Regions from separate parts of the Homo sapiens genome. Here region 1 is linked to region 2. Evidence: fine-mapped expression QTL. Tissue or cell type: lymphoblastoid cells. Region 2 holds a variant in brackets; the other region holds the start of a gene. All regions are shown on one strand. Distances are between the middles of the regions.

Region 1 (2,673 bases), 49 kb before region 2:
ATGGGGAGCCCCAGGGGGAGACACCAGCAGAGACTGTCCTGGCACAGGCTGGACAGGCATCCCTGCCCACAAACCAAGCCCCCATGTTTGGTGGGGAGGGAAGGGCCCCCACCCACAGCTGGGCCTGGCCAGGGCAAGCAGAGGCTGTGCACTGCCCCCACCCCACACTTGAGCCCAAACAGCCCCATCTGCTGTAAATAACTGGGCGTTGGAGCCCGCGGGCTGCTCCTTGGGAAGGGGTTAGCCACCATTTGGAGAGACCACGCAGCGCCAGGCTGGGTACGTCCGTGACCAGCAGAGCCGGGTGATGAGTCACCTGCCCAGCGCTCCAGGGCCCTGTCCTGCACGCGCACTCCCCTCCCCGGCGGCAGGGCCAGGGACACGGCGCCCCACCCCCACCCGCTGCCACCGGGGAGAGATGGCCACTGCTCCCCACTCCCCTCCTCAGGCAGGGACGGCGCCATCTTCCCCTCATCCCTGCCCGGCAGGCTGGGCCAGAGCCCCGACGGAGATGCGCTGCCCAGATTAGGAACCCAGAATAGCTCTAGGCACCCCCCTCCCGGACTCTCACAGGGACAGACAGCGGCCGGGAGGTGGGGGTCCCTGTTCCAGCCTGAGGAAGGAGGACCCGGCCCTGCCGAGCCCAGCAAGTGCCAGGTGGAGATGCCCTCGGCCCCGTGGGGGTATAGGGGGCACCCTCCCTCCCCCCCTCCCTGTGACTCAGGACCCTGGGTCACAGCCCTGTCCCATCACAGAGGTCAGTGGAGAAACCCACGCTGCTCCTCGCGGACAGGTGGCTGGGGGAGGGAAAGAGGACAGAAGCCACCCTGGGGTGGGAACACGGGTGGGGGTGGGGAGGCCAGGGCCCCCAGATCTCACCACCTCCCTCAGCGTCCTCTGGCCCAGCGCCCCGAAGCCCGACCCCCATCAGCCCCCGGCCCGCAGGGTCCCCGCGGCCCCAAGGTCACGGCTACGGGGCGATCGCCGCCCAGGACCCGGCCCCGCCGCCCCGCGCCGCCCCCCACCCCGGGCCCAGCCCGGCCGACGCGGGGACCCCCGGAAGCCGGACTCCGGGCGCGCGCGGGGGCGGGTGCGGGGCCCGGCCACCCTCTGCCCCCCAGGACCGGCCCCGGGGGTCCCTCTTCGGAAGACGGGGGCGGGGGCGGAGGCCCGGGGGCCGAGCGTCCTTACCCGGAGCCGAGGTCTCAGCCAGAGGGACTGGCGGCGCCGGCGCCGGCGGTTTTATCTCCGGGAGGGGGTCCACCTATTGACGGTGGCGGCGCAGTGCACCGCGCCCTGCAGCACGCCAATGCGGAACCGCGCGGGAGGGGGCGGGGCGCGGACGCGCGCGGGCGGGCGCCACGGGGACGCGAGGCGATGCGGGAGGCGCGGGCTGCAAAGACGGACGCGGGAGGCGGGGGAGAAACGCGCCGCGGGCGGGGGCGGGGCGGGGGGCAGGGCAGGGAGGCGGCGGGAGGGAGGGACCGGGACGGAGACGGCGCGGGGAGAGCGCGGCGGGCCCGGGAGACGGGGCGAGAGCCGGCTCAGGGCAGGAACACGCTTGAGCCGCGAAAAGCGGTCCCCGGGGACAGGGCAGACGCCGAGGACCGGAGCCGGCAGGCGGGGGAGGGGAGCAGGTGGGCTGCAGCCTGGGAGACGAGCCTGGGTCTACCGGCCCCTCCCCGGCCCTGCTCATGGGGGACGCCCCAGAACCAACGAAGCCCGGCTCTGAGGGGCTCTCCCTAATGAGGCCCGGGGGTGCAGGCCTCAGGGTGGAAATCTGCTGGTTTCCAGTCCCTGTCCTCACGTGCCTGCCCTCCTGGGCGCACCATGACAGGCCCCGAGGATCCAGCGCAGAACCACCCTCCCCCTGAGAGGCTGGTCTCCCACGGTGCAGGGAACGCCGGAAGCCCGCTCCCAGACCCACTGACATCTTCCAGGGACCCTCCCCTCCGGGTGCGCCGACCTCCGGCTGCTGCTGGGAAACAGCGCCAGCCAAGGGCGAGTCAGATCCAGACAGACCCAGGCCCCCCCGCCCAGCGCCCCACCCCGCTGCACCTCAGCGCCTTGTAGCTGATGCTCATATGGGGTCAGGATGCCAAGCCAAAGACCGGGCCACGCTCTGTAGGAAGTGGGGAGTCCCTGAGGTCCTGGCACACGCGGGTAATGACCAACGTGGGTTGTGAGGAAGGGGATGTGGCAGCCATGTGTTGTGTGAAGACCAAGGTTAGGGGCTTTCTCCAGACCCCAAGATCCTGTCGTCTCACCCAGGTATTCAGGTCTTCCCTCCCACGCTGCCCCCCCACCCCCACGCACTCGGATCTTCCTGCCAGCGGGGTCTCGGGAGGTGTGTGCTGAGTGGGGGCAGAGCCCTGGCACCTGTCCTCTCAGCCCTGAGTTCCCACTGGGTGTTGACATGGAGGCCCCGGGTCGGGCCCAGCAGCTGCGACTGGGCAAATCCATGGGGATCCCCAGCGACTGGACCCCTACCTGGCCTGCTGGCAGGTGTGAGGAGGAAGGAAAGGTGGGGGCCCAGGGTCGGGGCCAAACAGTTCTCCCCAGCCTGTGGAGAGGGCCTCTCAGGAGGACCCTGGTCTGTGGCTGCGTCTGCCCCATAGGAGTCCAGGGACTTGGGCTCCTGGGCCACAGGCAGGAGAGGAGGCAGGGAGGGCC
Region 2 (2,673 bases):
CCTGCCGTCACCCAGAGCTCCTGGAGCTCCTGTCATCTGGTGCCTCCCAGCCCCCAGCCCCTGCCCTCCAAGCAGTGACCGATCCATGAACACTGGACTCCCTGTGTGAGGGCGGGAGGGCCTGGCCAGCCAGGCAGGGTCCTGGAGGAACCGCCTGCTGGGTGTCCAGCTGGTGCAGCTGATGCTCCCCCCCACAGGACCTGACCACGCCTGCCGGAGCCTCCTCTCCCTCTCGGCAGCCCACAGCGGACACTGCTGTTTTCCTACCACACCTGCCGGCCCGGGGCCCATCAGCTGTCCCTGAATGAATGCGTGGATGAACGAATGAATGAACAGATAGCCACGGACATGCGATTTCCAACTCAAAATCCTGCCGTTGTTCTGGACTCCCCAGCTGGGGGCGAGGCAGGCTCTGACTCCGAGGCCGAGGTACTCACGGTTGGTCTGAGAGCGTCTCAGGAGAAGCCTTGGCCACGTGGGTGATGGGCACGAGCCCGGCGCTGGGCTGGCCCGAAAGCCTGCGTGCGAAGATGTAGCCGCCCCCCTCTTCGAGGGCACAGAGCCTGTCCCCGCGGCGGACACTCAGCTCCCCGCCACACCGCGCCGTGAAGTCATAGAGCGCAAGGAAGAGCTGAGGGAAGGGGCTGCAAGGCTCGGCGGGGAGCGTGGGCACTGGGTCAGTGTTGGGGTCCAGGGACCCGGGGGTGCCATGGTCCGGCTCGCCGCCCGCCGGCCAGATCTTGTCCCAGAAGAAGGACAGGAAGGCCAGCCGCCTCCTGAGGAACGGCTCCATCCCCCGGGGTCACCACGCTGGGCCCGAGGGCCATGGGAGCCCGCGAGCCCGGAAGAGGAACTGGCAGGGCCGGTGGGACCCGGTGTCCAGCGCTCCCTGCCCTGGCCGTGGGGTGACAGGGGACCCCGGCCCTGCGGTCACTCAGAGGTCCCCTGGATCCAGGAGGCACACGGTTCCCACCGGCGTCCGGGCTGGCGTTGGGGCTGGGTGGGGCGCAGGGCGGACCCCCTGCCTCAGGCACACCGACAGCACCTCCTGTCCTCGACCTCCTTGGCGTCTGGAGTGCACCGTCCCCTCCCCAACCCGACGGCAGAGGGCAGCTTGGGCTGGGGCGGGGGCGGGCTCCAGGAGGGGCCCGAGGAGGGCGGGGTGGGCAGGGCCAGCCTCTCTCCCGCCCTCTGCAAGGCCCAGGCAGGCGGAATGGCTCTGCCCAGTCAGGCCTGGCCCATGCCCAAGGGCACCACAGTCCAACAGCCGCCCGTGCCCACGGAGAAGTGGGGGTTCCACGGAGAAGC[G/A]CTGCTGTTCAGCACCTGCAGTGGTTGCCAAGCCTGAGCTGCACTCAGGTGAAAAATTGCCTGCTTATTTAAGTGTTGGCCAGATATTTTAACATCATTAACCCTGCACCAGGTGCCGAGCCTCCGGCCTCTGCAGTAAATTCTGAGGACAGGCGAGTGAGGGGGCTCTCAGCACCCCGGCTTTCATGCAGTAAAACGAGATGCTGATTGCAGGGAGCTCGGCCGCAGGCCAGGCACCCAGATGCCCCATGCTGCCCGATGACCGGCTTCTGAGTCAGTCAATGCCCAGGCCATACCCAAAGGCCACTGCGGGGAAGTGGAGGCTGCGGACGCCTGGCCCCAGTTCAGGGGGATGAGCACACGGAGAAGGGGCGGCGGGTGAGTCCCTGGCTGGGGACCTCCCACCCTCTCCCTGGACAGCGCCAAGCCCCCGCATGCTGAAGCAAACTCTGCCCGCTCAGGTAGGTCCCCAGATCGGGGCAGGACTGGGGGAGCAAATCCCAGCAAAACCCAGCAGCACGGTACAGGGTCCTGAGGCAGGAGGATGGGGTGGTGGCCATCTGCAGTCTCTCTCTCCTCCCACATCCCCTCCGGGTCCTGAGTGGGGTGGGGTGGGGGCCATCTGCAGTCTCTCACTCCTCCCACCTCCCCTCTGGGTCCTGAGGCACGGGGGTGGGGTGAGGCCATCTGCAGTCTCTCACTCCTCCTGCCGGCCTCCCCCAGCAGCCCCTTCCGCACCTGGGTGGCCTTCAGGGAGCCTCACGCCCCTTTCCCACATCTCACACGCATCCATGCCCCCACTTCATGCGTGTGGCTGAATGCATCCCTCCAATAGGCGTGACCAGTGTCCAGCCAATGACAAGCCCCTCGCACCTGCCTGCCCTGGAGTCACAGATGGGCTTCTCAGAAACCTCACGTCTGGGGACTGGTGTGTGCATTGTGGGGTGGCAGTGACACCCGTGGCCTGGCTCTCAGGGCACCCCAGCAGCCAAGCTGTGTCCGGGCTGATAGCCTGGAGCCAGCAGGGGCCCTGGGAGACTGGACATCGCCAGGCTCAGGGCAGGCTCTGCACCAGAGAGGTGCCCTGCTGGGGGTGGTGGGGGGTGTTGAGAAATGTGGAGAATTGTAAATACTACATTGGGGGTGGCCTTCGAGGGGCCCCAGCGCCTTCTCCTCCCGCGCTTCCCCCCGCCGCCCTCTCCTCCCGCCCCCGCCGCCCTCTCCTCCCCCCACCCGCTGCCCGTCTCCTCCCGCCCCCGACGCCGTCTCCTCCCCACAACCCACCCCCGCCGTCTCCTCCCCTCCACTCCCCCCGCCGCCGTCTCCTCCCCACACCCACCGCCGTCTCCTCACGTGCAGGTGAGG

Which allele goes with the higher level. Alleles are on the strand shown, and positions count from the first base shown. SD is a standard deviation of normalised expression in the study named.
As copies of G replace A in region 2, the expression in lymphoblastoid cells of the gene that starts at base 1,217 in region 1 goes down (moderate effect, 0.66 SD a copy in TwinsUK).

Evidence for each region. PIP is the estimated chance that this variant, and not a neighbour inherited with it, causes the effect.
Region 1: EEF1A2 starts here. The variant in region 2 is fine-mapped to the expression of EEF1A2 in lymphoblastoid cells (TwinsUK, PIP 0.92).

Annotation. Positions count from the first base shown.
Region 1 is chr20:63,497,867-63,500,539 of GRCh38, forward strand. It overlaps EEF1A2 (eukaryotic translation elongation factor 1 alpha 2), which reads right to left and starts at 1,217. Exons shown (of 8, transcript NM_001958.5): 1 at 1,192-1,217. LOC124904955 (a long non-coding RNA gene) reads left to right here and starts at 416. Exons shown (of 2, transcript XR_007067719.1): 1 at 416-757. RefSeq lists enhancers at 226-1,021, 1,282-1,851.
Region 2 is chr20:63,546,671-63,549,343 of GRCh38, forward strand. SRMS (src-related kinase lacking C-terminal regulatory tyrosine and N-terminal myristylation sites) reads right to left here and starts at 1,079. Exons shown (of 8, transcript NM_080823.4): 1 at 438-1,079. The coding sequence starts at 793. RefSeq lists an enhancer at 152-793. The variant G/A (reference allele first, on the strand shown) is at 1,309.